2 separate regions of the Homo sapiens genome follow, and region 2 is linked to region 1. Evidence: fine-mapped expression QTL. A gene starts in region 1. The other region holds a variant in brackets. All regions are shown on one strand. Distances are between the middles of the regions. Region 1 holds the start of SYT9-AS1 (SYT9 antisense RNA 1). Region 2 overlaps OLFML1 (olfactomedin like 1).

Region 1 (5,384 bases):
TCAAGAGGCTTTTCTTGCAATATTGCTGGTAGCAATGACCCTATCACGACACCAGATGTATTGAAACTCCTTAATCCTGTCATCTTGTGGGCTTGGTCCCAGCTCACAAGCATTCTAGGACCTTAGTGGCGCTGTCCAGAAGAGGAAAAGATTCAGAGCCCAGAAAACTCACCCAAGTGAAGGGCTGCACCTTAAGAAGGGGGAGACCAGTAGGCTGCACCGCCGTATTTCCAGAGGCTGACCTTGATTCTGGCTAATTACACACACAAGGAAATTCACCAAATGAGCAAAACCCAGCTATGGAGTTCAGGTGGGAGCTGTGCTATGACTTGGCCATTGGCAACAATGCCAATGCTAGTGGTATCCCTGGGTATGGGGACTGGTAAAAAAAATTGGCTAAGGTTGCAGCCTAGCCCTCTAAGCAGGCTTTAGACAGGCCATAAGAAATCAGGTACAGAGGTGGTCCCTAAGGCTGGGTACTTTGGGAGAGCTAAACCCAAAGCATTCTGAAGGAACTGCTTAAATGAAGAGGTAAAATTAGGTCATAATAGGGAAAAATGAGGTTGTGCACAGAACTGTGGGGGCAAACAAGATACATATGCATGTCACTAGCTGGGGGAATCCAGAGAAATGGGATAAGCAGCTAGGAAACCATAAGTGGGATGTGGCACCTGCTGTATGCTACTAGTTTGGACTAGGGTTCTTAAAGGAAGCTCATCTGGCTAGATTTAGGGAGTCTAGAAAGCCAAGGCAGATAAAGTACTTTTAATACATCAGAAATGTAGACTGGACCTACAGAGGGAATTGACATAATTGCTAAAGCTTGGACTTTGAAATTGGAAGTCTTGGGTTTAAATCTCAGCTCTGACACTTAGTCACAGTGTGGCCTTGTGCAAATTAGTGTCTCTACAACGCTGCATCCTCCATTAAAGAACCCCACGGGGTCTTTTAAGAACTTGTAAAGTCCATATCCCAGTGCCTGGCATACAATAAGTACCCAAAAATGAAGGAATATGGGCTGATACCATCACAACTAATTCCAGACCACATTCATTGGTGACACTGAGCCTGTTAACAATTTGCTTTCTCTGATGGGAAGGAACTCAGGAATTGGCAAACTGATATGGGTATGGGTTTCACAGTTGAAAGAGCGGCTAGGGAACCACGGGCCTGATGTAGATGGTGGCTTAGAAAGTAGAGCTATTCGGGGCCAGGCGCGGTGGCTCACGCCTGTAATCCCAGTACTTTGGGAGGCCGAGGCGGGCGGATCACGAGGTCAGGAGATCAAGACCATCATGGCTAACACAGTGAAACCCCGTCTCTACTAAAAATACAAAAAAAAAAAATTAGCCGGGCGTGGTGGCGGGCGCCTGTAGTCCCAGCTACTCAGGAGGCTGAGGCAGGAGAATGGCATGAACCCGGGAGGTGGAGCTTGCAGTGAGTCGAGATTGCGCCACTGCACTCCAGCCTGGGGACAGAGCAAGACTCCATCTCAAAAAAAACGAAAGTAGAGCTATTTGGATGGTGCTCCAGGGTAGCAGCTGATCTGGCAAACTGATATTTGAACCACAATATTAAGACAAATATCATTCAGTCTTTCTTCCTAGACACAGAAACAAAGACCCCTTTCCCAGAGATGTGTGTGTGTGCCCACACACATGCACACACTTCAAAGCCACGGGTCACAATCAAACGTGGTTTCCCTTTGCAGTGAACACACTGGCTTTTAATACTTTCCTTAAGTAAGTTATAGCCTCACATGTGAACTTTTGATCTCTGAAATGAAGTCCATAAATTTCATTGTCAGAATGGTTGCTACTCTTTTATAGTTTACGTGTAAATTTTGTTATTCCTATATCCATAGAAGTCACTTCAGTTTTTTCTCTCTATGGCCACAGTATTACTACATTTAATCTGTGCTGGAAGGTGCCCTGAGTTTAAATTAAGTTGAATGCTGGGCTGAGTGTGAAACACAAGAGATACTGCTAGTCTAAGTCTGGGGCTTCCTTAAGAGAGCCCCTCCTTCACATCTCGGAAACAAGGAATGATGTTGCACCACTCAGACCTCATCTTTCCATCCCAGCTGTATTAGTCCATTTTCACGCTGCTGACAAAGACATATCCGAGAGTGGGAAGAAAAAGAGGTTTAACTGGACTTACAGTTCCACATGGCTGGGGAGGCCTCAGAATCATGGCAGGAGGCAAAAGGCACTTCTTACATGGCAGCAGCAAGAGAAAATGAGGAAGAAGCAAAAGCAGAAACCCCTGATAAACCCATCAGATCTCGTGAGACTTATTCACTATCACAAGAACAGCACGGGGAAGACCGGCCCCCATGATTCAATTACCTCCCCTGCCGGGTCCCTTCCCACAACACGTGGGAAGTCTGGGAGGTACAACTCAAGTTGAGATTTGGGTGGGGGCACAACTAAATCATATCACCAGCCTTACCTCCGACCACTTCATTCCTCACACTACAGTCCAGTCACACCAAATTGTGATGATTCCTTCAATGCACCATGCCCTTTATTGCATTCTGCCTTTGCACAGTCTCTTTCCTCTACCCCAAGTGACCCTTCTTCTTTCCAGAGGGATTCCTCTTCAGCCTAAATGGCTTAGCTCAAGACTCATCAATCAGAATGCTCTCTATAGACCTCCTCAATCCCTTTGAAGTTACTTTCTCCCTTCCCATTGCCCCTGCAGTATTCTATGCAGCTTCTCACATCATAATATCTCCATCTGTGAGCCCTTTGAAAGCAGGGGGAGTGTCCTACTTATGGGCTTAGTATCCCCAGCATCTATTACCATGCCTGGCACTTGTTTGGTGCACATTAAAAATGTATGAATGGGCCAGGCACAGTGACTCACGCCTGTAATCCCACCACTTTGGGAGGCCGAGGCAGGCAGATCACAAGGTCAGGAGTTCGAGCCCAGCCTGGCCAACATGGTGACACCCTGTCTCTACTAAAAATACAAAAATTAGCCAGGTGTGGCGGCGGGCACCTGTAATCCCAGCTACTTGGGAGGCTGAGGCAGGAGAATTGCTTGAACCCAGGAGGCGGAGGTTGCAGTGAGCCAAGATCGCGCCACTGCACTCCAGCCTGGGTGACAGAGCAAGACTCTGTCTCAAAAAAAAAAAAAAAAGAAAAAAAATGTATGAATGAAAGCCAAATTATTTTTTTGTTTTTTCTTCCTGCAGAAACGATGACCATGGGTAAGAGGACTGCTTGTGCCAAGGACAAAATAGGACAACCATCTCACAAAGATCTTAAGTAACTTTTTCCATCCAGCAACATCCAGACGATTTCAGTGACCAAATGCTCAGCTGTAACCACAGCACTAACTGGCCTTCTTTCCAGATTGGGTTTGGTGAACCTGAATGGTCCAGCCACCTTCTGCAGGTGGCCCAAGGTGATGTGCTGCAGGGAAGCATGTCTCTCATGCCAAGAACCAAGATCGGACTATGAACAAAAACAAATGATAGATATAGTGACAGTACCAAGAGTACCAGGACTCAATGTTTCATATGAAGCCCTTGGTGATGAGGACATAGCATCTGCCCTGGAAATCGTTATTCCAACATAATATTATTTTCTAGAATGCCCTGGAAGGACAGAATATTTAAAAATATATCCAGGTGCTAAATAGGCAGCAGATCTCAATTCACACATGACTACCTTTGAGCTAATGACTGTCTCCAGAAAATAACTGTGCCCCAAGAAGTGCTCCAGATTTGCAAGGAATAGCCCCAAGAGAATACCAAGACAAGCAGGCTGTTCCCTGGAAAAAATCTAATGCAAGGAGGGCTAGTTCACAGCAAATTCACTGCCTCCTCCCATGCACGTGGTAGAGAGTACCAGTATCAACATGGCCCTGTTTTCTGCTAAAACCAGATTTTGAGGAATCAGAGACCCCCAACACTACTCACTCAGTAGCTAGCAGCCCCTTCCTTTCAACTGGGAGTGTTATTAGAATGAAAAGTAATTAGTTAGAAGGGCATACATCTCAGTGGCATGAGCATTGTGGAATATCCTTTCCTAGGCACATTCGTCCACTAAGGGAACAGCCTCAGAAACTGGTACAGCAATGGGTGAGATGAGATCATGGAGAGAGAACACAGCCATCCCCTATAGAAAGGCACAGCTTTTGGGCTTCTCTGGCCTGAATGCCTTCTGGGGTATTTCCATATGCAACAGCCCAGAGTCATAGCCTTGGGCAACCACACATAGAGGTTTCCTTCTCACTTCAGACACATACATCACTTTCACACCACTTGGGGATGGAAATACCTACAAGAGTGAAGGTCAAGGGCCCTCCCCAGGCATCTCATTCATTACTCAGCTTCCTTCCTGACCAAGTCTGCCAACCAATGGCCAGCTATGCGCCTCATCCTCATTGCTTCTGCCTCCACGTAAATGAAACCAAAGGCCTCAGCATATCCTGGGAGGACTGGGGGCTGTTACCTAATGGTCCTCTCTGTCCCATTATAGGTGCAAGGCACCCCATCCACACATTTGCACCACTACTCCAAGATAGTATTTTTCTTTTCACACAATCTCTTTACAGCAGAATCCAGAGTTGGATTGTAGTTTACCTTCCTGGAAAGCTCATTATCTCTGTTTGAATTAACATTTCAGCATGGAACTAACTGGGCGGAGGAAGGATCGTTATACGTCTTCAGAAAGTTCTCATTGCCCCAGCTGCCTAGTACTATACAAGAAGCTCTACTTTGATGGCAGATCTAAGAAGGCTATAGGCCTTTGTTTGTAGGAAGCAGTGTCATTACATTCAAGCTTCACTTCTCTGATTGGCTTCCAACCACTGGGATTCAAAGAGAATCCAAGGTTCTGCCTATGTCTGATGACATAAGGAAAACTTGGCTTCCTCTGCTCAAGGTTCCCCTCTGCTCATCCCTCCTCATTCAGACATCCTCCACCATACCAGTGTTTAGAAGCAAAACATGAAGGGCTAGCGCCACCAGGATAGTTAGCAGAAATATTGTCTGTAAAGCTAGGCAGATGAGCCCAGAAGAATGGTCCCAGAGAAAGCAGACTGGCTCCAATAGATATCAGGCAGCAATCCCAATAAATTCTGACATGTCCTTGGCAATGGAAGCCTGGGTTGGAGATCCTGAGGCAGCTGTGCCTACTGTTCCCCACCTCAGAAGCTTCCTGCCCAGAGAGCCAGCAGCCTTGGGATACTAATGAGGATGCAACTGGCTTATTGGTATGAAATAGAAGGTGGCTTTGTAGGGGCAAGCAGGCAAAGAGTACTATCCACATGGCAGGCAGGTGGCTTTGTGTCTGGAAAGCTTTGCCTAGCCAGTACAGCTGTGAGCAGAGGCTGGTTATAAATTTGAACTCCCTCAGCCCATTTGCAACTCT
Region 2 (5,384 bases), 23 kb after region 1:
ATAGTCAGGGTAAAGTAATTCCACATAGCAGGCCGAATGCATTTCCTAAGGGCGTCCAGCCAACAGGCTGGGGCCTGGAGGCAGTGGATGAAGTGTTCCCAGACGAGCGGCCTCTTGCGCTTCTTCACTTGCTCCCTCCTGAGCCTCACCTCCTTAGAAGTGCCAGAATGATGCTCAGTCAGGATCCCTCTGCATTTAGCACCGACTTGCCTTGGGAGTAAAGCCAGCCAAATCCCTGCAAATTGTCTTTCACTACCTTAAGAACTTGTCAAGGGTATGAAGTACAGACTGATCCTTTTATAGCTATGAATGTGGATTTGAAAAAGACAAGGATATGATCTGTATAGATCTTCCCACCCCAGTCCTGACCTGAGGTGAAGCCAAGTCGCAGGTGGCAGTCACTGTTGGCCAGCGCAGACACTTAACAATACAGTGATAGCATTCCCAGCCTGAGAAGCCAGTGTCGGAGGGGTAGGAAAAAAGAGGGTAGGGATTTAGGGAATTATTTTGGGTCTCTCTTTCTGTCTTTCTCCCTTCAAAATAAACAGCCTTACGTATTGTTGTTTGGAGCATACATTTTTACATTTGTGGATAGAATTTTGATAAACCATGCCAAATGAGCTTTAAGTAGACATTCTCTTTGACCAAGCAATCCCATTTCCATTCATTTATTCTTTTGTTCAGCAAATATTTATTGAATAGTATTATGTGCTTGGCCCTGTGCCAAGTGCTAGGGACGGATATTCTGGAAATCTACCTTAAAATAATCTGATGAAGATGTAAATACAAAGGTTTTTTTTTCCCTTAATAATCTGATGAAGATGTAAATAAAAAGTTTTTTTCTCAGCATTGTTTGAATGACAAAAAATTAAAAACTATGTAAATGTACCTCAAAAAGAGTCTAACAGAATAAATAATGGGATATCAATTAAATGGAATGCTCTCATTAAAGTTATGGTATAGGTATACTTTAATTAGTATCAAAGTATGTTCACAATATATCTGCAAGTGAAAAAGATGATACAAAACATATAGTAAAATCACATTTTAAAAATATATATTTACATATGTATGACTAAATGCTTGGGAAAACTTTTAAAAACTGATATACTCAAGTATCAATACTACCTTTGAATTTAGGAATTATGGGAGATTTCAATTTTTCCCCTATTTGATGATGTGTAATTTTCTAATCCTTTTCTATAAATGATAGGTATTTATATTATTTGGGTAATTTAAATAACAAGCAATAATTTGCAAATTTATTTTCTGACTGAAGCAAGGGCTGGAAAAATGTACCCAAGCAACGAGGGCATACATTCAAGAATTCCAAGAGTTCTCAAAAAATATATCTGTCATGCTGGGAAGATGTCAGACCTACACAAGTGAGTACAAGAGTGCAGTGGGTAACTTGGCACTGAGAGTTGAACGTGCCCAACGGGAGATTGACTACATACAATACCTTCGAGAGGCTGACGAGTGCATCGAATCAGAGGACAAGACACTGGCAGAAATGTTGCTCCAAGAAGCTGAAGAAGAGAAAAAGATCCGGACTCTGCTGAATGCAAGTAAGAAAACTGCATCTTTTCCTAGCCCTTCTAGGGACTATTATGCTCAGAAACACACAGACTCAGAGCAGTCAGGGAGCATCATAGAGTAATGAGAGTAAGAATTGGAGGTGTGCTTTTGTGTGCATTGCTGAGAGAGAAAGCTATACAGAGAACAGGTGTCCAAAGAGAAATCCATTCTCGCAAAGCCATTCTTTCTTTCACACACAGTGCCTAAAGCCTCCATAGATGGTGAAGGCTATAGTGCCAAAAGTCAGCCCAAAGAGACTACCTCCTGATAAATCTTGGTTTGGTGGAGATGTGTGGTCCCAGATTTTTTCAGGGAAAGTAGCAGTTTGGTGGATTCTACATCCAGTACCCAGGCTGTAGATAGCATCTGCAAATGTACCAAGAAACAGTCTTAAATTGGAAATGGCAACAGCCAACCCTCAGGGATGGGAACTGCAGTGAATCACTATTGTGTGTGCTGTCTGAGATGGTGATATGCATGGGATGTGGTCTAATCTTGTGATCCATCAGAATCACTTCCAAGCCATTAAGAATAATGTGTAGCAGCTCAAATTATAATAAACAGTATCAGGCAATAAACACACAAATGACAAAGAAAAATTTTCTGTGCCCGAGTCTATTTCATTAAAACAATGAGGGAGACAAATCTCCCACTTCAGGGTTTGTATTCTGAG[A/G]TGTTTTCATTGCAAATAGGAAGACTTTATTTACATGCTAATTACGTCTGTTCCAATTCAAGAACCTCCATCAGGGAAATGACATATAAGCTGAGTGCCATCATTGTGCTAAAAGTTTCACATACCTTCTCAATGTAATCCTTCTAAGAACTTCATGGTCACTATAAGGAAAAGGGTCTTCCTAAATGAGGTGACACTTGGTCTCAGTTTTGAACAAAGAAGTTAGAAACGAATGAGTAGAGGGTACTTCAAGTCAGGGCACAATATACCAAAGGCATGAGGGTACTGTAGCACCTTGACATGTAGACCCGCAAATATGGCTGAGTGAAAGCTTTTTAGAGAGGTGACAGTAGGGAAACTAGGTTGAAGAGCTCAGCAGGACCCAGTTAATGAGAGACCTTGCATGCTAGATGAAGGAAGTTGAAGCTCACTGGAGAAACTATAGAGAACCATTGAGCAATTTTAAACAAGGGCATGATACGAAGGAAGAGGCTAAGACTAGAGAGAGGAGACCAGTCAGGGAATGCTGCAATGATTTGGGCAACAAGTAATAGTGTTGGCATTAAGTGTCATGGGACAGAGAACAGGTGGATTTGAGAGCCATTGAGAATTGGAATCCACATGGCTTTCTGACTGCTAATTAAAACTAAATGATGAGTGAGAGAGATGAGTCCAGGATGTTTCCCAGGTTTTGGGCTTAGGTCATCGAATGGTTGGTATGAAATATGCTGAGATGGAAAACTCAAAAGGAGTTTGGGAGCACTTATTACTCTATAATTTTTTTCAGACCATTTATAATTTTGAAACCATTTAGTTCATTTATTGGCTCATAGGTTATTTCCTACCTCCCTATCTGTAATGTCAGCTCTATGAGAGCTTGGAACCCCAGTTTCATGTTCAATGCTGTGTCTCCAGTGCCTAGAATGGGGTCTATTCAATAAATAGTTTTCAGTGAGTAATTAAACAATTAAAACAAATAAATGAGTAGATGTAGGGATTGTCAACACAGGCAGAGGGGTTAGTTAGGCTTTGGTGGGGGGGGGGGCGGGGAACCAAAAAACATCTTATCCCTGAGTCAGAAGAAAGAGAGGAGGGTGCCCTGCCTATAATATGAAGCAATGGGTCAAGTAAGCAATCCTTTTTGGCCCTGACATTGTCCTGAGATGAATCATCCTCAAAGAGGGAGAAGCTGGCGGTAAGCACAGAGTGAGGGAAGGAAATGGGTCAAAAGAGGATGAACAGGGGCTTCCTAAAAAGCTGATGGAGAGGACTGGGTGCTAATGTGGCCTGAGCTAGAATGTGTCCGAACTCTCACACTGGGGGTTCAGGCAGGACGCTAAGTCTGAATAGTGGTGCTGAATTGGATCCCTGAGCTGTTTCTGGTCCCTGGATACTCTCAGCCCACCAGGTGTTGAGACTACCCTTTCCCATTCCAGCTAGAGCTCAGTGGAGGTCCTGAGACTGGACTTGCTTTTTCAACCCCCATCCTCTGCCCCTCAGATCTGGTAGTTCTGAAATATCCCCTCTCCTAGCTCTGTGGTATATGAAAACTTATTTCTGAACCTATCAGAGATTGCTACATCCATGTCTGTTGCCTCTGGAGCTCACATTTGATGCTGTGTTGGTTTGTAAATCAGCCAATACTTGTTGCCTCCCACTACTGGATGGGCCCTGTGCTGCACTGCAGGGATGGAGGACTGAGTAGGACATGTCTGCATCCTGCTGTAGCTTCCTTACCACTTCTCTTGCCTCCCACAGTCTGCCTCCTGTCATGCAGACCTTCCACAACACAAAATAGATCATAATTCTCCTCTGTGTAGAATGTATTTTCGTCATTTACCATCAATTATCAACAACAAAAAAATCCATTCAAATCTCCTAGCTTTCTTTTACATAAGAAAGGCCCTTTACAAAGTGATGCAAGTTGATCTCCAGCTCCTTCTCCCATAACTTACCCAAATGCAGTTTAAATATACATATACATATTTTTATGTATGTGTGTATATATGTATTAAAATATATATTATATATAATTAATATATATTTATATATTTTTTCCTAGCAATCCTTTATGACTCAAAAATGCTGTGAATTCTTTGTGAAGACCTATGAGGGTGAGGATAGAGGTGAGGGGGCTGCCAGGCAGATTGGCCTATAATGCTCCTGGAGCAATTCATTCAGTCCTCCCAGGGAGCATCTCACATATCCGACCACACAAGTCTGTATGTATTCAACTCCTCAGTCATTCCACAAACATACTGACATCTTCTTTTCTGCATTCACAGAGCCTAGGTCATGTCCTCCCATGGAGAAGGCCACAGAAATTGTTTACAGAAGAAATAACAATGGCAGAGGCCCCTGCAGAGCTTAGTTTAGGGGAAGACAAACCTAGAAACAATCACAACGGTGTGATTAGTGTCTCCTCGATTTATTATTTTTAGAGGTTCTCTATCTAGGAGTAGACTTTGGAATGTCAATTTATTCCCGTTAGGCACTGTTTTGTATTGTATATATTATGCACACTCCTGCTTTTTTGCCATTTCTGTTAGTAACTATGCCTATATCAGTTCTCATGCTATACAACAAATTACCATAGATTTAGCATCTTAAAACTACACATTTACTACCTCAGAGTTTCTGTGGGTCAGGAGTCCATGCATGGCTTAGCTGGGTCCTCTGCTGGTACTTGTAGGGCTGGGACCCTCAGCTCCTACAGCCTCTCCTTGCCATAGGCACTGCACAACACAGCTATTGCTCCTTCAAGTAGATGGAGAGTGCTTCTCTTTAGGAAGCGCCTAGTCCCTCTTTTCAGGGCTTTTATGTGATTCAGCCAGCCCACCCATAATTTCCTATTGATAACTTCAAAATCAACTGATTTGGAAACTTATCTGTATATGCAAAATTCCTTCACCTTTGTCTTACAATGTAATGCAATCACAGAGTGCTGTCCTGTCATACACTCACAGGTCCTGCCCACACTCAAGGGAAGGGAATTACACTGGGCATGTACACCAGGGGGTAAAAATCCTGGGGATTGTTTAAGAAATCTGCCTATCACAATGCTTTAGTCTGATAGGCTCAGCTGGTGCTACTAATTACCTGCACCCACCTTCTTCCTGGAAGACTCTGATCT

Evidence for each region.
Region 2: its variant is fine-mapped to the expression of SYT9-AS1 in whole blood (INTERVAL, PIP 0.91).

What each region holds. Positions count from the first base shown.
Region 1 is chr11:7,463,593-7,468,976 of GRCh38, forward strand. SYT9-AS1 (SYT9 antisense RNA 1) reads right to left here and starts at 2,243. Exons shown (of 5, transcript NR_103855.1): 1 at 2,161-2,243. SYT9 (synaptotagmin 9) reads left to right here. Exons shown (of 7, transcript NM_175733.4): 7 at 3,200-5,384. The coding sequence ends at 3,208. RefSeq lists an enhancer at 4,330-4,389.
Region 2 is chr11:7,486,848-7,492,231 of GRCh38, forward strand. OLFML1 (olfactomedin like 1) reads left to right here. Exons shown (of 3, transcript NM_198474.4): 2 at 1,280-1,568. Among named protein-coding and RNA genes, the nearest start is that of OLFML1, 4.0 kb to the left of the region's middle. The variant A/G (reference allele first, on the strand shown) is at 2,252.